6 separate regions of the Homo sapiens genome follow, and regions 1, 2, 3, 5 and 6 are each reported to be linked to region 4. Evidence: microRNA targets listed by miRTarBase, many of them from high-throughput screens and not tested one by one. Region 4 holds a microRNA gene; each other region holds the end of a gene's coding sequence.
The links. The annotated mature microRNA hsa-miR-4424 reads AGAGUUAACUCAAAAUGGACUA and lies in region 4 at 1,371-1,392, opposite strand. An mRNA with a match to its seed (bases 2 to 7 or 8) in the 3' UTR can be bound and repressed. Matches are read on the target gene's strand: a 7mer-m8 pairs with bases 2 to 8, a 7mer-A1 pairs with bases 2 to 7 and ends in A, and an 8mer does both.

Region 1: the mRNA of NAA40 is a reported target of hsa-miR-4424. Seed matches in the 3' UTR shown: 7mer-m8 at 1,261-1,267.
Region 2: the mRNA of MYBPC1 is a reported target of hsa-miR-4424. The part of its 3' UTR that is shown has no 7-base or 8-base seed match.
Region 3: the mRNA of COBLL1 is a reported target of hsa-miR-4424. The part of its 3' UTR that is shown has no 7-base or 8-base seed match.
Region 5: miRTarBase lists SEC14L3 as a target of hsa-miR-4424. The part of its 3' UTR that is shown has no 7-base or 8-base seed match.
Region 6: the mRNA of BCL2L11 is a reported target of hsa-miR-4424. Seed matches in the 3' UTR shown: 7mer-m8 at 442-448.

What each region holds. Positions count from the first base shown.
Region 1 is chr11:63,954,178-63,958,285 of GRCh38, forward strand. It overlaps NAA40 (N-alpha-acetyltransferase 40, NatD catalytic subunit), which reads left to right. Exons shown (of 8, transcript NM_024771.4): 8 at 161-3,142. The coding sequence ends at 302. Among named protein-coding and RNA genes, the nearest start is that of NAA40, 17 kb to the left of the region's middle.
Region 2 is chr12:101,683,682-101,687,789 of GRCh38, reverse strand. It overlaps MYBPC1 (myosin binding protein C1), which reads right to left. Exons shown (of 32, transcript NM_002465.4): 31 at 3,366-3,408; 32 at 1,762-2,208. The coding sequence ends at 3,385. Among named protein-coding and RNA genes, the nearest start is that of CHPT1, 12 kb to the left of the region's middle.
Region 3 is chr2:164,682,342-164,686,449 of GRCh38, forward strand. It overlaps COBLL1 (cordon-bleu WH2 repeat protein like 1), which reads right to left. Exons shown (of 14, transcript NM_001365672.2): 14 at 1-3,691. The coding sequence ends at 3,605. Among named protein-coding and RNA genes, the nearest start is that of SNORA70F, 3.4 kb to the right of the region's middle.
Region 4 is chr1:178,675,047-178,679,154 of GRCh38, reverse strand. It overlaps MIR4424 (microRNA 4424), which reads right to left and starts at 1,406; the gene lies at 1,321-1,406.
Region 5 is chr22:30,456,374-30,460,373 of GRCh38, reverse strand. SEC14L3 (SEC14 like lipid binding 3) reads left to right here. Exons shown (of 12, transcript NM_174975.5): 12 at 232-1,145. The coding sequence ends at 353. Among named protein-coding and RNA genes, the nearest start is that of SEC14L3, 14 kb to the left of the region's middle.
Region 6 is chr2:111,163,530-111,167,625 of GRCh38, reverse strand. It overlaps BCL2L11 (BCL2 like 11), which reads right to left. Exons shown (of 4, transcript NM_138621.5): 4 at 1-3,493. The coding sequence ends at 3,395. Among named protein-coding and RNA genes, the nearest start is that of BCL2L11, 45 kb to the right of the region's middle. RefSeq lists enhancers at 1-14, 1,329-1,829.

The DNA of each region.
Region 1 (4,108 bases), not on the chromosome of region 4:
GGGAGATGGTATGGCAGTGCTCTCTGATTTGGTCCACTGTCCACCTCCTGCACCCTCATCCTAAGGGTCTCATCAGTGTGGCTGGTAGAAGAGTTCTCGGGCCAGGGAGGAAGGCACTCAGCTGCCTGCCACCAACCCTTTTCTCCTGCCTGCCTTGCAGATTTGAAATTGATGACTCTTCCCCCAGCATGTCCGGTTGCTGTGGGGAGGATTGCTCCTATGAGATCCTGAGCCGGAGGACCAAGTTTGGGGACAGCCATCACTCCCACGCGGGTGGGCACTGTGGTGGCTGCTGCCACTGAACTCTCAGAGCCACTTTCAAGTCACAATGCTCTCTCCTAAGGCCTTTCCTCTTTCCTGGTCTCACTGTTCACCGGGTGTCCTCAGAGCTGTGGCCTCCCCAGCCCTGCACGTGCCAGGCTGCGCCCTGAGAGCACAGAACCCTGGGGAGAAGTGGTATCAGCTGCTCCTCCTCTCCTAGGAGACCAGAGTGCTAGAAGGGAATGAAAGGGAGAGGGAAGAGTAGGTGGGGCCGGGCAGTGAAGCTCATCCTCCACAGTGGCTGCCTCCTCATTTGGCTCCTGGGGCCTGCAGTGGAGGTTCTCGCACCTCTGCAGCCCCTAGATTCCTGGCAACCTCCCCTCCCCTGACACATACACACTTGGACAAATGGAATGTTTATGTCCACCTTTATGAAAGTTCTGGAGTCCTGGGTCTGGGGTTTGCTGGTCCCCAAAGAGGAACACACTGGGTGTAAGATCTGGGTGTAGAGGGCGGCTTCAGAGAGACTCACGCTTGCGCAGTTGGAATTGCTGTTAACGGAGACTGGGAAGATCTTTTGTGCCAAGATGCAGGGAAATGAAGAAAGCTCTTTCCAGCTGTTTTTATGGATTCATGGAGTGGGCTCATGTTGGGACCAGCTGACTCTGGGAGGAAGACTGCCTCTCCATCGCTGTCAGAGAGCCTGAAAGGACCAACAATGAGGTGTTCTTGGGACCCGCCATGGGGATGATTGCTTCTCTAGGCTCCTGGATGTTGCTGCATTCTAAGCTTAACCTCCTGGTCTCATGGCAGTGACTTGAGCTTTTGATTCATAGAAGAAAGCCAGAGGTTCTGCTTGTTCTTGTCTGCCAGCCCTCGTCGTTCTTTCTCCTCTGCCTCTCACCTCTACCCCAAATACCTCTGTTCTTAGTCTCAAGGGGAGAATAACATCAGGGAGCCCCTCATCTTCCCCAGAAGGACTTCTCGTTCCTCATGTAGTTAACTCCATTGATTTTCCTATCTTGGTGCTGATAGCTCTCTAAGGGTAGGGCACACCTCCCCACAGCCACCCTCCCTCTTCAGAGAGCCCCCAGCCAGCAGCAGGCCCCTCTGCCTGCACTCCTCAGGCTTGCCCCTCGCTGCCTCAGTGAGGCACTAGTGCCACTGCCGTGGCCCAGCCGGGCCATAGCTCAGGCTGCAGCAGAAATGCCTCTCAGTGGCCAACAGTTGCTTTTCTCTCTGGTGTCACCCTGTGGCAACAGGCTGGAGCAGGGGAAGGAGAAAGCCTTCCTCTTCTCTCATAGGATAGAAAGGCAGGCTCAGAACTAATGCTCATCCTGATCTCTAGGCCTTGTTCCTCTTCCAGGGAAGAAAAGCCAAATCCTTATCAAGGAAAAAGCACCTAACAGCTCCCTTTGGATATCCCTGAGCTCTGCTGTGGGGAGTATCATAAAGGTTCTAGCCTTCGTGAAGTTGTTCTCGTGGAGGTCTGTTGGTCCCTCTGACCTCAGCATCTGCTCACATCCCACCCTCTGCCCAACTCTGGCAGTCTCTCCTGGCAGATCTCCCCAGAGTGGTCCTTGCTTCTCACCTGGATTCCTGCTTGTGCAGGAGCCTGTGTACACAGGGCCTCCCTCACCCAGCCTGGCCCCTCTGCTGAGCACTTTGCGCTGCTCTTGATGGGCAGCAGTGGGACTGGGAACTCCTTAGAGAGGGCCTTGCAGCTTTACACTGGAATAAGTCTGCCTCTGCCTCTGCCTCACCCTGCTGGCTCCTGGTGGGTTTCATCCCAGGCAGAGTTGACATTGCTGGAGGGGTTTGGTGGACTCCTAAGAATCATGAAACCACAGGAGCATGTTTAGGAAGAGATTTGTCTCTGGTCCCTGTCTCTGAAAGGACACAGATGCTAAATATTTATTGTCTTAGATCATGGATTCCTGATACCTCTCACTCAAGGGGACCAAAAGGGACCCCCCCGTGTTCATCCCTTGTAAGGTGAGTTCAGTCTACGTTGTCTCTTTCCAGTCACTGGATACGTGGCACCAACTGGTCAATGGGTGCTTGGTGCCATACCCTGCTCACCCTAGTCTCTGCAGGCCATGTCCTGAAGGGTTCCTCAGGAGGTCGGGACTAGGGTGGGAGAGGCACTATCTGAGACCTGCAATCACTCTTGTTGGTCTTGAGCCCATTCATTTCCAAAACATCCATCTTTCTCCACTTCCCCCAGGTCTTGGTTTTGAGAAACAGCAGGCATGGCTGAGTGCGGTGGCTTACACCTGTAATCCCAGCACTTTGGGAGGCTGAGGCAGGCGGGTCACCTGAGGTCAGGAGTTCAAGACCAGCCTGGTCAACATGGCAAAAGCCCATCTCTACTAAAAAATACAAAAATCAGCCAGGCGTGGTTGTGGCCTGTAATCCCAGCTACTCGGGAGGCTGAGGCAGGAGACTCGCTTGAACCCAGGAGGTGGAGGTTGTGGTGAGCTGAGATCACGCCATTGCACTCCAGCCTAGGCGACAGAGTGAGACTCCATCTCAAAAAAAAAAAAAAGAGAAACATAGCAGGCCTTTTTTACCAGGCTTTTTGTGTTTTGTTTGTTTGTTTGGAGCATGTTAAGATTTTTTTAAGATTTTTAAAATTTTAGTTATATCCACCCTATTTCAGGTTATTTTTGTTGGTGTCAAGTATGTATAGGACATGTGAATGGTTCTTTTTAATTTTTTTTTAAGAGGAAATTTGGAAGATAAACTCCTTGATATATATATATATATATATATTTTTTTTTTTCTTTAGCAGCTTGTTATCACTGGAATCAAAGGGAAAAAGTGATCTCTTCTTGCATTGGTTGTATTTGTATGTCACAAATAAAAGACACTTTGGTCAGCTGCTGAGATGGCTTCCTGATGCTGGGGCACCATGGGCAGCGTGGATCTGGGAAGCTCTGGACCCTGAGCCTGTCCCAACATTGGGCCCGAACATCAGGAGGTGCATAGCTATGATAGCCCCATGCTGGAGAAAAAACTCAGGCTGTCCGGGGCAAGCAGCCAGAGCTGGGAACAGAGACCAAATGTATGTGTTTGTGCCACTTCCCAGGAGTTCTGAGTAGAGGCCAAAGGTGTTCTGAAGGGCGCCTGCTTTGCATCTTGGAGAGAAAGTCCCAAGCCAGGCCTTGTGACATTTGAAATCTGTGTCCAAACGTAAATTCCAGTGCCCATGTGTGGGAGGTGAATAGACGAGAGTGCTTCTTTCCTCTTTGACTTCATTGGGTTACTCAAAATATTCTTTGTCTCTTAAGATTCCTGCCCTCTTCCATCCATTCACAGAAGACAAGGCTCCAAGGAAGGGGAGCTCATGTCAGGGCTGCTGGGGCAGGAGAGTTATGAGCTGGTGGAGGCTGTGACCCCCTAGTGTGACAGATGGAGCTGTGCAGGTTGTTCCCCAAGCAGGGCTCCTGCCAGCCCTGGCCCGGGGGAGCTGGAGCTCAGTACTTTCTGTGGACAGTGGAGGGGCTGCCCCATTGTACTCTGCTTGGTGGTCTGCATCTGCTGGAACGGGGAGCAGGAGACCCTGATCCACATGGAGTGTTCGTGCCCTGGCAGAGCAAGCATCTGGGGAAAGAGGAGCCAGGGTTATACCTGTTCCGTGGGTCCCAGCTGTGGCATGTTGTGGCCTCTCCCCTGTGGGCAGGGGCACACCCGCAGGTGGTTTGTGCAGCTGTCTTATCTTTGAGGCCCAAAGAAAGGCAGCACAGCCCTTGGGAAGGGAGAGCAATTTGCCTGGCGAATCACATGGCCAGTTTCCCATGTGACAGAATTCTGCCCCTCAAGTTATTTGTTCCTTGAAGGCTGT
Region 2 (4,108 bases), not on the chromosome of region 4:
CCTAACTAGCTTGGCCAATGTCTTGGCCAAAGTGCTCAGAGTATTTGAGTTAAGCAGCCAGCTCGGCTGCTGCACTATGGCTAAGACCCAGCAGCTGGGCTGCAGGGACCACGTTGACTGGGTTTGCCACATTGTCATTTCTTTGGTTTGTACATAGACATAAGGTTTTCATGTCTTTATAGATGAGCCAGACTTCCTTTATGTTAAAATACCTTAACCAATACTGTGCACGTAGCTTTCTTGATTAAAATTGGAGTTTACCACGTATGTTTATTGCGGCACTACTCACAATAGCAAAGACTTGGAACGCCCAACAATGATAGACTGGATTAAGAAAATGTGGCACATATACACCATGGAATACTATGCAGCCATAAAAAATGATGAGTTCATGTCATTTGTAGGGACATGGATGAAGCTGGAAACCATCATTCTCAGCAAACTATTGCAAGGACAAAAAAACAAACACCGCATGTTCTCACTCATAGGTGGGAGCTGAACAATGAGAACACTTGGACACAGGAAGGGGAACATCACACACCAGGGCCTGTTGTGGGGTGGGGGGAGCGGGGAGGGATAGCATTAGGCGATATACCTAATGTAAATGATGAGTTAATGGGTGCAGCACACCAACATGGCACATGTATACGTATGCAACAAACCTGCACGTTGCGCACATGTACCCTAGAACTTAGAGTATAATAAAAATATATATATATATAAAAACAATGGGTTATAGCAATAAAAATAAAATAAAATAAAATTGGTGTTTACACAGGGATTGCACACAATATTATTCTGGAGTTTTTGGGAGCATAGGAGCAGGGGTGATAGCCAATGTTCTTAACAACCAGTAAGGCAACATCACCAACCAATTTCAACAGAGATATATAGAGCCAACATAGTTTGGACATAAACTAGACTTTCTTTTGTTCTCAAATGTACTGCAACGACCTGAATCATTCACCCTTCCCTTTACGAGCCCAACATCAACCCAGATCCATGACCACCATAGAACTTCCCAGCTAAAATCTGGAAAGAAAAAAGAGCAGATATGTTTAAAATGTCATCCAAAGAAGCCATGGGCCCACCAACAAGTCACAATATATTTAGCTCCTGCAACAAAAGACCAAAAAGAAAAACAGAGGGGAGGCGAGGGAATAAACAGTAATGCTGTGGTACCTTACAGTTCGATTCTACTCCCTTAACTGAAACTTTATATCAGGAAGAGTAAAGGAAGTTGCTGAAAATATTATGGGTTAGTATAAATGTTTCTCAGCTGCTAGATTTTTTAATAAAGGTTTCCATCAAATTGAATGGATACCATCAGCAAACCCTAACTCTGTAATAGGTCTGTTGTCTGTAACAGCCCTCTGTCACTATGACTAGCTGTTTTGGCAGAAGCTCTGGCAGATTTGGCCAAGATGCCTTGCTAGAGACACAGGGAGGGCAGACCTGGGTTCAGGGGCATGCTGGCTCCCAGCCTTTAGCCTCAGTTTTGTGTCTCGGCATACAACCCTAAATGCATGAATGCATATTGTATCATTTCATCACAAACACTTCAGATTTGTTGTACCATCCCTTCTACTGAGAAAATTTGTTTGAAAGTTAGACTTTTAAAAATGTTTTATTGCATTCAAATAAGAAGAAAAAGGCACAGATCCTGGTGTGAAGCAGGCCTGTATGACATCAACAACTCCGCTTTGGTTAGAAAAATCTACTAGATCAAGAGAAAGATGGGTTTTCAAGATCCAGTCGTGGTGCATTGTGTTATGTTTTTTACTCTGAGAGGAAAAAAAAAGCATTTATAGCCTACTATGTAAACAAAAATAACTGCTTTTGCTTATTCTATGACTTGCATTTTTGTAAAGTATAATACAGTGAGCAGAGATAATAATGACCAAAGTGCTGACTTCAAATGAGATTTTGTTTGCAATTTTTAATTAAGCAATCTGGGCAAACTTTTTTTTTTTTTTTTCTCTTCAACATTAGGAGGAAAGAAAAAGACCACACTTGGGGGCCTGGTGGGAAAACAGAAAATGCTTTTTCTCATTTCAACCAGATTTCAAAGCAGCAGAGTGCAGAGAGACAGTAGCCAGGCCCTCCCTCAGTATTCCTCAGGATTGCTTGAGTGTAAGTCTCGCAGATACGAATCAATTATGTTTGGAGGTACGCCTTGCAAGAGGAGTCTGCAGAAGGAGAGCCCACCTAGAGAGGACCAAAAGGAAAACAGACAAATCAAAACCATCTACCTGAAAAATCGCTGAAACAATACTTCTTGACTAGCTGCCTGGAAATGTGACTAATCATGTTCCCATTAGTTACAAAGATTCATTCAGTCTCTACTTGGAAAATCTTCTCCTGGATTTAGTACATTTAGAATTTAAAGCACTTGGCATCTAGAAGGAAAAGCAAGTTCCCAGTAGAACCACAGCAGTTTTTCCCCTACTATTGTTCAATCTTCATTTAAATTCCCAAGTGGTTGGAAAGTATTTATTGCTCTTTGAGAGGTTTTGTGATTCCTCATAGATGATTTAAATGTTCTGACTGAACAGCAGAATAAATGCATACCACATTATGGATCAGTGGGAAGATCTGCTTCCAGTTTGTTAATGTTCTTTTTAATTAGGCACAGAGAGTTTCGATTCAAGCACATTAGAAAAGATAAAAACTACTCCCTTTAACTTTGGTCATTTATGCATGTCAAAAGCACAAAAATTGGAAATATTTTGTTAAAATTATAATAATAAGACCGGTCCAATACTTTCTGAAGGTGCGAGAAACACCTACCAATATTTCATACCTACCTTCTGAGTTTCTGAATTATATTAAAAAAATAAAAGTACCCTTCAAGAGAGAATCCATGAAACCACAAAAATTCATGGTCCTTTAGTGAAGTGCTTTACTACTTGCTAATAAATTCACGTCCAGACAAAGCAGCATGCCATTTGAACATTCTTAAAAACTTCTTTAATGCAAATTTGAGAAAGTCATTCTCCTTTTTTTAAAAAAACAACTCAAGTCACATATTGGTAGAAATGATGCCACTTATGTACATGTCCATTCCTTGATGCAAATAATTCAGAATGCTTGGGTATCACCCATTTTTGTCTACATTAAATGCTTTCATTCATGCTCTACTGCATTCAACAACTTGCTTCATGTCAGTAGGAGACTGCTGTGATGGATAAGTACTAGCTGTTAATTTCAAGATAGTGAAATACAAATTAAAACTACAAAGTTAGGGATTTAAAATAAGTCTATTTTCATTGGATTATGTAATGAAAATCATGCCATACTCCACAGGCTTGGTATGGCTTATGACAGTCATAAGCTTCATATGCCAAAACCATATGAAAGCTTACCTTAGATGATATTATACATTCAAAAATCCTTATTGTGCAATGACTAAGGAAAAGAGAAAGAGGGAGAGAGAGAGAAGTCGTAAGCATTAATAAAGTGCTAACACCAAACTTGAGTACTTGTTGGATGAAATTATGGTCATGATTATGAAGAGGTGATTTCATTAATCCTTAGTCATGTAAAAGATGTAGGAAAATAGAAGCACATGAAATGAAGGGTGGGGATCCAGTCACGTCAAAAGGATCATTAATATGTAAAACATTTATTAATATGCACAACTACTTTGCCTGAATAGGTGGCAAAGTCATTCTGATTGTATAGTGAATATCTATGGTAAGAGCTTCCAAACCATTAGCTTAAAACAAATACAAAAACCAAAACCCTACAACATATATATATCGTGTTTTTCAACAAAAGAAAAACATAGACAATAGACAAAGTGTTAGTGTACATATATATATGTTGAAATTCTAAAAGGCAAAATTATCAAGTACAAATATTAGACTAGTGTATTCTATAATATTGTATTCTGCATGGAATATATATGACTGATCTAAATAGACACAAAACCTTATGTTACAAAGCTATTCTATATACAATCTACAAAGCTTTCAAAAAAGAACCTTACTTTTTTCCTCTTTTGAAAGCTGTTATTATCTCTGGAAACTCACAAAACAAATATTGTAAACTCAGGCATAGATCTACATTATCAGGGTTTTTATCAGGTTGCATACCCAGCTGCAAA
Region 3 (4,108 bases), not on the chromosome of region 4:
AAAATGATGAGTTTGATTCTTAGTTCTTTGATACTTATTTTCTCTACTGGTAGTGGGTACAAAGTAAACTGGAATTAGACACATACATAATTGTATCAATTGGGACGCTTTGGGTTTTAAGCACCTATAAGTAACTAAGTCTCAGGACAAAGATTGGTCTCATTTCAAGGACTTGGATAAGATGACAGAGTGTGTATGCTGTTGCCAGTGCCTAGTGGCCAAGGCCAGATCTGGCAGTTCATGAAGAGGTGAAATCGGAAGAAGGGTCACTCCTCAAAGAATAGGGAGTATATTAGGCAAATAATACCTGTTCACTTATAGTATTGACATCAGGTAACTTTAAAAGATGAATTGCCTGCCGTTTTTAAAATAAGGTTCATTTTTATTCATATTAATTCATTTTTCAGAAGAGAAAATGAAGCATAGAGAAAGTAATTTGCCCAAGATCCCATGACTCATAAGTGGCAGACTTGTGATCTGAACCCCAATCTCTTCACTCCAGCCAACATTATGTACCGCAGCAAGAAACAATAGAATGGCTAACAGAAATACGATCGATCTGTATGTGTAAAAAGAAAAGCTCTTCCAGAACACTGCTGGTATAAAAGGCAAGTTGTTACATAGTATTAGAGTGTGACCTCCTTTCATGTTAAGAAACACACATACACACACACACACACACACACACACACACACACAAAAGCCCCCAACAAACCTGCACACATGTACTTCATATAAATACATCTATATAGGGCTTCATATCAAAATATTAACAGCTATCTTTGGAGAGGAGAGTGGGATGCTGGGGATGAAAAAGAATGTATTTTATACTCTATCATATATATGTAATCTGAATTATAATTTTAATATTATATAAATAAATAACTTGATTGGAGGAAAGAAGGAAAAGCAAAATGCCTAGATGCTAAAAATTATACATGAAAGTCAAAAGTTGGTTCTAGACCATTCCTGTATCTTCCTTGTGCTGTTATTTTAGGATATGATGAGTGAAAACTACTTGTCACAAATTTCTTTCCCCATTGACAGGATAGCACATGTTCTCCTAAAATGGTGTCGATAAGGCAACTTTTCAGAACATACATGTATTAATGGTTTATATACATAGCCCCCTAAATCCTATGTGACCTTTAAAACATTATTTTATTATAATTATAAACTACAAGTATACTAGAATTTAGAATATAATAAGCACTTGTTTTCAAACAGCAGTTTATAAAATACTACGAACACAATTGATGCCTCTTATAAATCTCAATTCAGTCTTTCTTGGTTCCCACAGGTAACCACCAGCAAATTTTTTTCCTACATATACAGCCATAATTTATAGTATCATTTTTTATATTTATACTTTATGTAACTAATTTCATAAAACACGACTTGTTCCACCACTCACTCTTGTCACTTGTTTTTGAGATGTATTCATGCTGACATATATAGCTCTAGCTTGTTCATTTGGACTGCTGTGTGGAAGTCTATCATATGAATATATGCATTACTAAAGCTGAGCACGGGTTAGGACCCCTTTCTGCTGTTTTACACAAGGCTGCCGTGAACATTTTTGCAGATGTCTCCTTATGCATGTGCATAAGTACTTATTTAAGGTAACATGGTAAGGAATCTTTAATTTTACTAGATATTGCAGAACTGGTAGTTATGCCAGTGTATTTTCCCACCAACAGTAGAGTTCCCACTGTTTGATGTTCCTGACAACACTTGCTATTTTGAAACTTCCGTTTTTGCTAATTTGATGTGGTACCTTTCCATGTTTTTAACTTGTATTTCCCTGATTATCAGTGAAGAGTATTTTTTTTCCATGTTTGTTGGCCTTTTGAATTTCCTCTTGTAAGAATAATGTGCTGATATTTCTATTAGGTAGACTTATCATGAGTTGTAGGAACTTTCATATCTTCATAAATTAAGCCTTTCTTATATATTAATATATTGAAAACATCTTACATGTCGCTTGTCTTTAAGTCTTCAATCCAACTCAAAATATATGAAGGTTTAAATTAGGGATCCAAATTTATATTTTTATAAGTAGATAATTATGACAACACAATTTTTTAAAAAAAATTCACTCCTTTCTCTACTTGCTTATAACAACATAACTTAAGTATCTATATATGAGGGTCTCTCCAACTGATTCAAGGAAAACAGCAGCAACATTTAGCATTTAAGATGGCCATGCCATGTATCAGGAACTATGCTAAACATTTTAAATGCTTAGACCATGCATTTTGGAGTCAGAATGCCAGGGCTTAAATGTACACTAGGGATCCCTGATAAATGGTAAATCTTACAAATTTCTTGTTTGTTCACTGGCTAATAGAAATGTATGCATCAGGTAAGGGAAATAAATATGCTGGTTGACACAAACTATATATTTTAAAAAGCACCCCAAATATACAACTTGCTTTTATTAAATTGAAAAAAAAATCCCCAAGAGGCAGATATCCCAGTAGTTTTAGTGAAAACAAATTTAATATCATCTTGTTTGAACAAAGCTTTCAGAATAAGTGAGCAATTAAATTCTTAAAGTAGGGACAGAACACCAACAGGCTCTAGACTCCGGAAGAGCTGTAAGCCGACAAATGGGCATTGTTTTGCTTAACAGTTTTAGCTTCAATGTAAATATATATTATTACTTAGAATATTAGCATCTGAACTATATAATGACTATTTTATCATTTTACTTGAATTAAAACCAGAATTTCTGGAACTTCCAAATAGTCTTTAAAGTTTTTCAATATAAACATAAACTAACCCCTATTCCTCTCTACATATCAAATGTGAAATAACTGTCACAATATATCAGCATTTTCACAGAAAGATGTTTAAGGCTTCTGGCACATAAAATGTGTAATTTCTGTGTGACAATGTCATAATTATATACAGAAAATATTTAAAATTCTTGTAGAATTTAAGTTCTAAAGATTAAAAAAACAAGAGTTCCATGTTAATAAAATATTAAAATACTATGAGCTTCCCATAAAATTGACAGTGATTTGTAATTACATAAAGAATACACAAGGCAAGTCTTTCACACTAAGTGATTCATCATTGAAAATAATTATTGAACTGAATATACTTATTTGGTATCACTAGTTTTCTAAATCATTCTTTCAGCCCAAAACAGGCTTTCATATAACTTATAAATATTTCCAATTGCTACACTGAGGCAGCAAATGTCATATCTATGTTTGTCCTAGTTGTATGTCATACAAATATAAAGTCTATGAATCTTATACTTTTGTCTAAGTCACCATTGTAGAGAATGTGCTGGTAAGTGAAATCAATACAAAGGAATTATTTTTCATTTGTAAAAAATGAAAATCATTTACACCTTGTTTTAAAGTTCTAAAGCAGCATATTCAACTCTTAAGGCAAAAAAAAGATCAAAAAATTACTATAAATTATAAATTCTGGTAACTTTTCTTCTGGCATTAAAAGCCACAACACAAATTCTAATATTTTAATAGATAATATATTAGTGTACATCTGAATATACATTTGCCAAAATGTTCCATTAGTATGAAGTTGGTCTGAAGTGGAAGTGAAGTGCAGTGGTGTGGCAGGGTAACATTTAATGGCCGTCCTGGGCATCAGGGGACATGGAATGGCTGAGTCTTGACCTTCCATTCACAGATATTGTATTTGATGGAATGGTAACCTAAGAGAAAGAAACACACTTTGCACCCATCAATTTAAAATGGGATAGCTGTCTAATTTTCAATTTTCAACAGTTACCACATTTTAACTTCTGCTTAATTGTAAATGATAAGTATCTATTATTCAATAAATTATAATCAAGAATAAATGTTCATTCTACCATAAAATTTAAAAAGAGAGAGTCGTTATTTTCACAACAAATAAGATAAATAATCCATTAACACATCTTAATCTGTACAGAATTACCAAATCAACACAAAGGACAAGAGCACAAACAGACTGCAAACCAAGCTGTTAAAGAGCATTTTTAGCTAGATTAATTCTGTAATTCTGGCTCCCCAAAACTGCCTCTGAGAATGTAGAAAGATAAAGTGAATTCCACAAAGCAATGAATTTTACAAGTTTTGTACTGATGGTA
Region 4 (4,108 bases):
AGATCCCTGGTAAATAGATTCATGGCTTCCCTGAGGGGAGGAGGCATGAGTGGGTTCTCACTCTATTAGAGAGAGCTGATTGTTAAAAAGAGCCTGGGACCTCCCCAACCCCTGCTTCTTCTCTTGCCATGTGATTTCTGCACAAGATGGCTCTCGCTTCACTTTCCACTATGAGTGGAAGCAATCTGAGGGCCTCACCAGAAGCAGATGCTGGCACCGTATTTTTTGTGCAGCCTGAAGACCCATGAGCCAAATAAACCTCTTTACTTTGTAAATTCCCCAGCCTCAGGCATTCCTTTATAGCAACACAAAATGTACTTAGACAATTACAAGCTTGTTCTGGCATCAGATTTTCATCAGTGATGACCTTGACAAATTCATCAATGAATTTCTCTACTGCTTTGTGATGAGCAGATGCTTTACCACAAAAAAACTTCAAAAATTTAATACCATATCTTTTTAAAAATTTCTGCAACCAGCCTATTGAATATTCACAGCTCCCTCCAATTTTCAGTTCACTGTGATAGATGTTTGCTTGTTTCATGATCAGCATACCATTAAGTGGCATGTGTTCACTGCAATGCTGACAGATCCACTCTTTCAATACATAATCGAGATCTTCATTTTTAGCTTTATGCTTTTCCATTTTTCATAACTTCTATTCATCACTTTAAGCATAGAACTTCAACAGCTTATCCTTCTGTTTCTTCAGGTCTTATATGGTGGCCATTCCAACACAATACTCTTCTATAAGACATTTCACACTTACACTGCTGTCCAGTTTCTCCAATAGCTTGACTTTCTTTCTTTCTTTTTTGTTGAAACAGAGTATCTCTCTGTCTCTCAGACTGGAGTGTGCAATGGCGCGATCTCTGCTCACTGCAACCCTCACCTCCCAGGTTCAAGCAATCCTCCCCTCTCAGCCTCCCAAGTAGCTAGGATTACAGGTGTGCATCACCATACCTGGATACTTTTTTTTTTTTTTGGATTTTTAGTAGAAACATCATTTCACCATGTTGGCTGGGCTGATCTTGAACTCCTAACTTCAAGTGATCTGCCCACCTTGGTCTCCCAAAGTGCTAGGATTATAGGTGTGAGCCACTGTGCCTGGCCTGCAACCTCCTTCTCCCAGGCTCAAGCCATCCTCCCACCTCAGCTTCCCACCATCATGCCTTACAAATTTTTGTAATTTTTTTTTTTTTTTTGATGGAGTCTTGCTCTGTCACCCAGGCTGGAGTGCATTGGTGTGATCTTGGCTCACTGCAACCTCCACCTCCCAGGTTCAAGTGATTCTCCTACCTCAGCCTCCAGAGTTTCTAGACTACATCACACACAGAGTTAACTTGAAATGGACTAACTAGTGGAAAAATTAGTCCATTTTGAGTTAACTCTGTGTGTGATGTAAGATAATGGTCCAATTTCATTATTTTGCATGAGAATATTCAGTTTTCCTCATGCCATTTATTGAAGAGATGATCCTTTCCCTATTATGTATTCTTAGTGCCTTTATTAAAGATTAGTTGACTATATATGCATGTAGTTTTTCCTGGGCTCTCTATTGGTCTATGTGTCTGTTTTTATGCCATTGCCATACTGTTGATTCCTATAGTTTTGTAATATTATTTGAAATCAAGAAATGTGTGCCTCTACCTTTGTTCTCTTTGGCCATTCGGGGTCTTTCATGGTTCCACATAAATATTCAGATAGTTTTTTTCTATTTCTGTGAAAAATGTCATTGGAATTTCATTGAGATTGCATTGAATCTGTAGAGCACTTTGGGTAGTATGGCTATCTTAACAATATGAATTCTTCCAGTCCGTGAACACAGAATTTCTATCTTTCCATTTTATTTGTGTCTTCTTTCATTTCTGTCATCAATGTCATAATTTTCCGTGTACAAATCTTTCACTTCCTTGGTTTAAGTATTTTATTTTTTCTCATGCTATTGTAAATGGGATTGTTTTCTTCTTTTTCAGATAGTTTGTTATTAGTGTATAGAAATGCAACTGATTTTTGTATGATGATTTTGTATCCTGGCACTTTACTGAATTTTAAAATTATTTCCAACAGTTGTTTTGGAGGAGTCTTTAGGGTCTGCCACATATAAGATCATGTCATCTGCAAACAGAGACAATTTCACTTCTTCCTTTCCTATTTGGATGGCTGTTACTTCTTTTTCTTGCTTAATTGCTCTGGCTAGAACTTCCAGTACTATGTTAAATAGAAGTAGCGAGAGTAGGCATCCTTGTCTTGTTCTTGATCTTAGAAAGGAAGCTATCAGTTTTCCACCAGTGAATATGATGTTACCTGTGTGTTTGTAATATATGGCCTTTATTATGTTGAGGTACCTTCCTTCTATACCTAATTTGTAGAGAATTTTTATCATAAAAGGATGTTAAATGCTTTCTCTGCATCAATTGAGATGATCATATGATTTTTACCTTTATCCTGTTAATGTGGTTTATTACATTTATTGATTTGTGTATGTTGAACCATCCGTACATACCAAGGATAAATTCCACTTGATCATAGTGTATGCTCCTTTTAATGTGCTGTTGAATTCAGCCAGTTAATATATATTTTTTTAATTTAACATTTTTTTTTGAGACAGAGTCTCACTCTGTCACCCGGGCTGGAGGGCCATTGTGCAATCTCAGCTCACTGCAACCTCTGCCTCCCGGGTTTAAGTGATTCTTGTGCCTCAACCTCCCAAGTAGCTGGGACTTCAGGCATACATCACCTTGCCCAGCCAATTTTTGTTTTGTTTTGCTTTTTGAGACAGAGTCTTGCTCTGCCACCCAGGCTGGAATGTAGTGATGCAATCTCGGCTCACTGCAGTCTCCGCCTCCTGGGCTCAAGCTATTCTCATGCTTCAGCCTCCCAAGTAGCTGGGATTACAGATGTGCACCACCACACCCAGCTAACTTTTCTAATTTTAGTAGAGACATGGTTTCACCATATTGGCCAGGCTAGTCTCAAACTCCTGACTTCAGGTGATCCACCCACCTCGGCCTCCCAAAGTGCTGGGATTACAGGTGGGAGTCACCGCACCTGGCCCAATTTTTGTATTTTCAGTAAAGACCGGGTTTCACTATGTTGGCCAGGCTGGTCTAAACTCTTGGCCTCAAGTGATCTGCCCACCTTGGCATCCCCAAGTGAGCCACTGTGCCTGGCCTCAGCCTGCAAAAATTTTATTGAGAATTTTTCCATCTGTGTTCAGTATAAGCCTGTAAGTTTCTTTTCTTTTAGTGTTCTTATCTAACTTTGATGCAAGGGTAATACTGGCCTTGTAAAAAGAGTTTGGAAATGTTCCTCCCTCTTGATTTTTTTTTTTAGAAAAGTTTTAGAAGAATTGGTGTTTATTCTTCTCTGTTTGGTGGAATCCACCTAATCTTTTGTATTTTTGTGGTATCAGTTGTAACTATTCTTTTGTCATTTCTGATTGTAATTTTTTGAGTCATCTTTCTTTTTTTCTTGGTTAGTTTACTAAAGGTTTGTCAATTTTGTTTATCTTTTTAAAAAATCAACTCTTAGTTTCTTTGATCTTTTAAATTGTCTTTCTGTTCTCTATTTCATTTACTTCTGCTCTAATTTTTGTTATTTTTCTCCCTTCTGCTAACTTTGGGCTTAGTTTGTCTTTTTTTTTTTTTGAGACAGAGTCTCACTCTGTTGCACAGGCTAGAGTAAAGTCGCACAGTCTCAGCTCACTGCAGCCTCTGCCTCCTGGCTTCAAGGAATTCTCCTGCCTCAGCCTCCTGAGGGTGCCTGCCACCAGGCCTGGCTAATTTTTGTATTTTTAGTAGGGATGGGGTTTCACCATGTTGGCCATGAACTCCTGACCTCAAGTGATCTGCCCACCTCGACCTCCCAAACTGCTGGGGTTACAGGCATGAGCCACTGCACCTGGCTGTGAGATCTTTCTTTTTAAAATTTAGGTATTTATCTCTATAAATTCCTCTGTTAGAACTGCTTTTGTTGCATCCCATGTTTGGTATGTTATGTTTCTATTTCTGTTGGTTTGAAGACAGTTTTTTAAATCTTCTTTGACCCACTGGTTGTTCAAGAGCATGTTGTTTAATTTCTATTAATACTATTTGTGAATTTTCCA
Region 5 (4,000 bases), not on the chromosome of region 4:
GATGCCAGTAAAGCCATGCCTGGGCACATGCCAAGAGGAGGTTGGTGTCTGTTTACAGGACCTGCTTGGGTTGGCAGTTCCCATGGGGAAGGGAAGAGGCGTGGTGGGAGCTTGGCCCAGCTTGGCAAACAAAGCCAGTGGGAACACAAGCCTGTCCTCCTCCATGGCCAGGGGTGGAAAAAAGAGTGTGTAAAGCCAAGCCCAATGCCCCTCTTTCCATCTGTCCCCCAGATGTCCTACGCTTCGACAACACCTATAGCTTTGTCCACGCCAAGAAGGTCAGCTTCACAGTGGAGGTCCTGCTCCCTGACGAGGGCATGCAGAAATATGATAAGGAGCTCACCCCTGTCTAGGTGGCTCCCTCATTTCTCAGAGACCTCCTAACCCTTTGATTTCTCTGTTTATATCCTACACTCCCTCCCTCCCTGAAATTGATTGTTAGTCCTCCTGACTCTGTGACGTTAGTGAGTACAGAAAGAGATGCCCTGGGGAAAACTCATCTACTGTGGTCAGATCAAGAAAGGTATGAGAGGCACAACCTTGGAGGGTACCAAGGTTGCAGAAGAGGAAAAAGCAAGGGTAAAGGCAAGAAGTGGGTGTCATGAAACTCAATAAATAGCAAAATGAATCCCCTAGCCTTTGTCCTCACCTACCCTAAGGCAGGTGTGTATGCTTGAATTCCTTCCGTATGGCTGTGAGCAACTTGGGTTGGAGACATATCTAAATCCTTTTTACTTCCACTCCCTATATATAGTAGATGCTCAGTGTATATTTGTGGCATTGAATGGAGGACCAGAAGGTAGGGTGCAGGTGACTCAACAGCTGTACATGATTAGGAGGAGCCTATGTGGGGTGGATTTCAGCACCTTGGACAGGAGCAGATGTGTGGTGGGGTTGGACTCTCTTCTGGAGACCCAGACAATTCAGTCTCCAGATTTCTGGCAGTGGCTGTCTTTTGAGGGCCCCAGCCACAAAGGCCACATGCCTCTGATAGGAGCTGCCTACATCAGGCTTTGTCTGACTTGCACGCTCAGCTTCCCACCCTAACCCACTTCCCTTGTTGCACATAGCTTATGTTTTAGGGACTTTCCTGGAAGCAAAGGCAGTCACATCTGGCATAATCATAATAAAGAAAACAACTATCATTTGGCGAGTGCTCTCTGTGTACCAGAAACTGTGCCAAGAGCTTTGTGAGTTTAGCATGTTTTATTCTCATGCCATCCCCAAGGCCCTTTATGGATAAGGAAATGGAGGCTCAGAGGGGTGAAGCTACTCACTCAACATCTTACAGCTTGGGTGGCAGATCCAGGACCTGGGGCAGGGGGTGTTCGTTTGTTTGTTTATTTGTTTGTTTGTTTGTTTTTTGAGACAGGGTCTCGCTCTGTCGCCCACCCAGGCTGGAGTGCAGTGGTACAATCATGGCTCACTGCAGTCTTGACCTCTTGGGCTCAAGCCATTCTCCCACCTCAGCCTCCTGAGTAGCTGGGACTACAGGTGGGCATCACCACACTTGGCTAATTTTTTTGTATTTTTTTGTAGAGATGGGGTTTCCCCATGTTGTCTCAAGCTCCTGGCCTCAAGTGATTTACCCCCCATCAGCCTCCCAAAGTGCTGGGATAACAGGCCTCAGCCACCATGCCTGGCCTGTTTTTGCTTTGTTTACTCCAATGACATTGCTCTCAGTTGCCTTGTAATACCGCCTCCTGCCTATAATCCCAGCCCTTGGGGAGGCTGAGATGGGCGGATCGCTTGAGCCCAGGAGTTTTAGACCAGCCTGGGCAACATAGTAAGACCACATCTCTATCAAAAAAATTTAATATAGTAAGAATATGACCTCCTAAGATTCCACTTTTACAAAGGCAGTGAGAAGGCATGATTTATTTGTTCTAGACCTTCCAGTAGAAGTGTCCTGCATGTCACCCTCTCCAGTCCCTGTTTGTGGGTAGAGGAGGTGATAGGCCATAGAGACCCACAATACTGAAGCAGCTTGTCCAAGGAAATTCACAGCAGAGTGGGGCAGGGCTTGTGTTCCTCAGCTCAGCATCCTGTCCGCTGCTCACATGGCATCTGTGAAGCACAACCCCCTGACGCTCACCATGACCCTGGGTGACTAGGGCAAAGGCCAGGACTCCAGAGTTTCCTTCCCAACTTTCTGCTGTGATTCGGGGACGTGAAGAGGCTGGCTTGAGCCCCAGTCCCTGACACAACTCTTGCCAGGGGAGCCGGATCACACCCGGGAATGGGGATGAATGGGAACCAAAGGCTGGTGCCATGAGAGGCTCCTTGGAAACAAACAAACGGAGGGCTGAGCTCATCCGTGGGCAGGCTATGAGGTCTGACTCAGGCTAGTCAAGCAAATATTCAGCAGCAGCAAGCACTTTCCCACATGCACTTATGGGTGCAAAATCTGATATCTGCTTTATAGATGGGAAACTGAGCTCCCAAAGGCACTGGCCTTGTATCTTCAGCCTACAGGTGACAGAAATAGTCCTGGAGCTAAGGCTGCCCCTTACCCCGTCACCTCTTCACCCCCACCACTCTTCTATAACAATTTGTCAGAATGGGACAAGACTGCCTTCTTCCTGAGCTGGCAGGGAAGGAGGAGGGAGGAGGAAGGAGAAAGGAAAAAGGAAGGAAGAGAAGAGAAAATGAGGGTTGTCAGATTTAGAAAGGAAAAAAAAAAAAAAGCATGGCCAGGTGCAGTGGCTCATGCCTATAATCCCAACACTTTAGGAGGCCAAGGCAGGCGGATCACTTGACGTCAGGAGTTCGAGACCAGCTTGGCCAATGTGGTGAAACCCCGTCTCTACTAAAAATACAAAATTTAGCCTGGGGAGGTAGCACATACCTGTAATCTCAGCTCCTCAGAAGGCTGAGGCATGAGAATCTCTTGAATCCAGGAGGTGGAGATTGCAGTGGGCTGAGATCACACCACTGCACTCCAGCCTGAGCAACAGAGCAAGACTCCATCTAAAAAAAAAAAAAAAAAAAAAAAAGACATACTTAAAATGTATCCATTGTTTATCTAAAATTAAAATTGACCTATGCATCTTATATTTTATCTGACAATCCTACCAATGAGGGAAGATGGAGGGAAGAGAGAGGAAAGGGAGGAGGATGGAAAGAGGGGGATGGGTTCACCTTCTTGGAAGACGGTGGCAGCACCCACAATTTGGGCCAATGATGTCATGGAATCCTTGGGAGAGGATGGCTTAGTGTGGGTGATGCAGGGTCGGGGGACAGGGTGGTCTCACCCTTGACCACCAAAGGAAAGGCCTCGATGTTGAAGCAGGGTCTGAGGTAGAGAGTGTGGACCCTTTGTGCCTTTGGGACTAAGATGAGCAGTGCTGTTGCCAGAGCTCCTCTGTGGCAGCTGAGTGGAGGGGACTTGCACCAGGAGGTGGAGCAGTGCAAAGAACCTAAGGCCAGGGCCAGAGCTGAGATCTGCAAAGTGCCCATCAGCATCCGCTGATGCCCACCCCTGGCAAGCCAGCTCCCACTGTGTGCACACAGCCAGTAAGAGGCAGGCTTCCCAAGCTCCAGCTTCTAGCCTCCAGTCTTACTCAGGGTCTAGATGCTCAGCTCCAGTCCTGAATCTCCAGGAGGCAGCATTGGGGAAGGAAAGAGACCCACTTTGTAGCTTTGGCCAATGGTCACTAATAGAGTTTGGATATTTGTCCCCTCCAAATCTCAGGAGGAAATGTGGCCCCCGATGTTGGAGGTGGGGCCTAGTGGGAGGTGTTTGGGTCATGGCGGTAGATCCTTCATGAATGGCTTGGTGCCTGCCCGCCATAATGAGTGAGTTCTTATTCTACAATTGCTTAAAAGAGGCTGGCACCCCTCCCCTCTTCTTGCTCCCTTCCTCTCACCATGTGACACGCTGGCTCCCCTTCCTCTTCTGCTATGAGTAAACGCTTCCTGAAGCCCTCACCAGAAGCTGAGCAGATGCCGGCACCATGCTTTCTGTACATCCTGCAGAACAATGAGCCAAGTAAACCTC
Region 6 (4,096 bases), not on the chromosome of region 4:
ACCCATTCACTTGTCCTGCCTGGCCCTAGCCCTGAACAACTGCAATGCAGCACCTCTGGAAGTGGCACATTTTATTTCTTTTCTAAACGCTGAGTTGTCAGGGATAAATTTTCAATAGAAAAATCTTTCCCACCTGCTGATAATACTTTGGTTTTTTTGTTTTCCTAAAGATAAAGCCTGGAGTCAGCAAAATTTGCTTGCATGATAAGCTAGTTGCTTTGGAACAAACAGAAGGTTGCTGGGTATTTCTTGGAGTAGAATTTTGTAGCCTGCCAGACTGAGTTTCTCACTGGCATCAAACACACACTTCATCATAAGGGCGGCAAAGCCCAAGAATTGAAACCCACTTGACTGGAAATACCAGGACCCGAAGGTGGAGAGCCACCCTGGAGGACCACGTGGTCTGCAATGAGCTCTCCAGTCACCCCCGACAACTCTCAGGAGTTAACTTCATGGGACGGCAGGGGAGTGGGAGACAGGGATGTTAATACTTTTCAGAAATTAAGACATTAAATAAGCAGAAAATAAATATACAATATTTCTACAAGTTACAGCATTATGAAACAGTAGGACACATCACACAGAAAAAGAATCTACAATATTTACAATCCTTGATTTTGAAAAAGTTGAGAAAAACAGTGATTTTTTTACTTATTTATGCTGTACAAAATTTTACAAGGTAAAGGAAACACAATTGCACACAGACATTTGGCTCAGTTGATAAGTAATATGACCTACGAATCTAATAAATACTCACAATATATACATTAAGAAGGGGAAACGGCAGACAATTGTATTCCACTATATTTTTTTAATCAGAAGGAATTTTAAACTTGATTTCTCCGCAACCCCCACCCCCAAAATTCTTGATCAACTAACCAGTTGGGAAGGGCATCTGAAGAATCACTCATGAAACTATTTTGTGTGTGTTTATTGCGTTTCTGTGTTAAGTCACAGGACACTTTTTACAAACCTCACATAGGGAGAGGTTGTCAAGGCACAAAACCTGCAGTAAGTTTCCAAAAAGGGGATTTAATTATTTTTTCTACAAAAATGTTTTTTAAAAAAGGTAAAAACGTATACCCACGGGAGGCATACTTTCTGCACAGAGGCATCTTGATAACCAGATACATACAGTACAGAGACATCCAGTCATCGCTTTAAGTTCTGGTGCCAACAGCCTGGTCTTTAATACTCCTACAATTCATAGAATCTCTAATTTCCTCAGGAACTGTTTCCACAGCCAGCCTGGAGGCCGCCAGGCCAGAGGGAAATGTGCTCATGTGGTGCACACAGCCCCTGGGCAGCACAGGGCAGGGCCTCCCGTGCCTGGCCCAGGGCTGCACCCAGTGTGTGCTCCCAGGGGCTGCAGGGCTGAGGAAACAGAGTAAAGTGCTCTAGTCAGGAGACTGGCACGTGAGTACAGGGATCCTGGGAGGGGGTGCCCAGATCCAAATACATCTTTGGTGTATGTGTGTGTCCAGCAGGCCCACGGCTGCAATCCTACCACTGCTTGTAACCGTGGGCTTTGTATGACCCTACCAATGGGCTCGAGACACATCAGGGAACAAGATGAGCTCCAACACAGCTTTAAAAATAAGTCAAAGTCCCAAGGAGATTCTTGGGGAAAGGAAATTTTTTAAAGTAAGAGTATTTGGATTGAAATCATCTCTACCTAAAGGAAAAAGTGAATATGCAATATATACATATATATTTTTTAAATTATGAAGATAAAAATGTTTAGATTTTTCCACCTAATTTAAATAACGTGAACATGCTGGCTCTTCTATCGGGCAAAACACTAGTTGGTGGCACTGCTTACTCATTTGAAAATTTAGTTATTTCTTTTAAAAGTTGTTTAACGATGGAGTTTTCAAAAATTTTAAGAGTTACAGAGTTCACAGAATTGTCTTCCCTCCTCACTTTCACTGCTCCCTAACCTGACTCTTTCTTGGGTCTCCCTGGGCATCTGCTGCCTCTGAAATGACTGACCAGTGTGTGGCTTCCTTCCACTGCACTCATAAGGAGCAGGCACAGAGAAAGAGCACCCTCACTACATGGCTGGGGTCACAAGTGGCCTGACAATATCCAACTGTCCTGGAAAAATGAAAAAAAACAGACTTCTGCCCAGAATTATTCTTCTATGGTGCTGGTGGAAGTGGGATGAGGCCTGTTTCAAAGTGAATTTAAAGGAGTGAAGCTAGTGGACTGTGAGTTGGACTAAAATGCAGGAGGCCAAGCAAATGGCCATCAGAAGCCCTGCCCCAGGCCTGTGCCAATTCCCATGAGGGCGTGAGCTGGATGCTGCAGCTGGACTCTGCTGTAATGGACACGGTGGCCCTCTGGGACCTGATGCTGACAGTGCATCCTGTGACCATGGGAAAGCCTGCAACCAGAAAAGCCAGCAGCACAAAGGGGCGTAGCACTTAAGTCTGTTGTTATTACTGCTATTGCCTCTTCAGAATACTTCCCAATAACATGCTCGTCGAAATGGAATGAAAACCAACACCAAATGCTTCCCAGTTAATAACAGATCGCTCGAACTGTGCAAGATACAGGCAGATATTAACTCTTGTTCTGACTCAATTTCACTTTATCATGAAAATACACTGGACCAAATCTATGCATCTGAGTCCAGACTGGAGTTGCATCACAAAAAGTGATGAGGAAAGACGCAAAAATAGTCTGAAATTTTGCCACAGATGCAACTGAATTTATAAAGGTACGTAAATATTTACAAATGGGACTGGTATATCAATGCAGGCTGGCAACAGACCCTCTGCCCTTTTAATCAGTTCCATTTCAAAAGAACTCTTTTGGTATTAAAAATAATTTAAAAAGGTCAGAGAGGCAATAGTAGGGAAGGGAGGGAGTATATCACACGTCTCCCTGTTTAAAAATTCTGTAATCTCTAAAAATAAACTAAGGCAGCTTTTTAAGTTAGCTGGCTCAGTTTCCACTGCAGGGGTTACATAATCCTCTGAGAATAGGCCGTAGGTTCTTAAAATTTTAATACAAAAGTTATTCACAAATTGGTTAAAAAGTTTCCATTTCCTTTTTGAAAAACCTTATTGAAGGTGAGGGGGAAAACACACTGCATGTAAACACCATTCTTACACAAAATCCTGCTCCAAAAAACCATGGTTTGTATATTAAAAAGCAAAGAATGCTCCCTCCTTTACATTCACAACAAACTTCCATTAGAAATTCTGCTGTGTGGTGATGAACAGAAAGGTAGTCCCATCCAGCTCGGTGTCTTCTGAAACGTCACCTGCCCCCTCCACAAGAGAACCGCTGGCTGCATAATAATGGCACCAGGAGACCGCGGTGCTGGGTCTTGTTGGTTTGAACAAGCAAAATGTCTGCATGGTATCTCGGCTCCGCAAAGAACCTGTCAATGCATTCTCCACACCAGGCGGACAATGTAACGTAACAGTCGTAAGATAACCATTCGTGGGTGGTCTTCGGCTGCTTGGTAATTATTCAAAAATACCTGAAACAACAAAAGGAAAGCTTCTTAGTTTCTCCCTAATTTGGGGGTGGGGAGGGGTGGGAGCCCATATTTAAGTGAACAACCAATCCCATCTTAATCACCATGAAAGGCACCTCTTCAAGAGCACTGTGTCACAAAGCACGATGCCTCCCAGAGATTGTGAAGAAAACTTGTTTTCATTTCCCTGCAAAGGGGAAGACATCCCTACAAAAAGGGCAGGCATACCAATGATTTACTCCTTAAAATAGGAAAAAAAAAAAAAAAAAAAAAAGCACTCAAAAAAATGTTTGAAAAACTCAAAGAGGATGTAAAGCAACTATCTTACCACCCAAGTTAACTGACATTCAAATATGCTGCAGATTCCCCCAGGGGTGAATTTCTGGTAGCTGTAATTTATTTGAAAAACCAGTGATTTGGAGTAATCTGCCCTAAGAAGCTAAATAAAGTCTCGCAGTGATGCGCCATTGTGCCTCTGGCTGCTTGGCTATGATAAACACCGTGACCCAGAGGGGTGCCCATGGTCACAGACACAGGCAATGTCAACCCCCATCCTCCCACCTTCTCGGTATGGGAAGGAAAGAGCAATCCAGAACATAAAAAAGT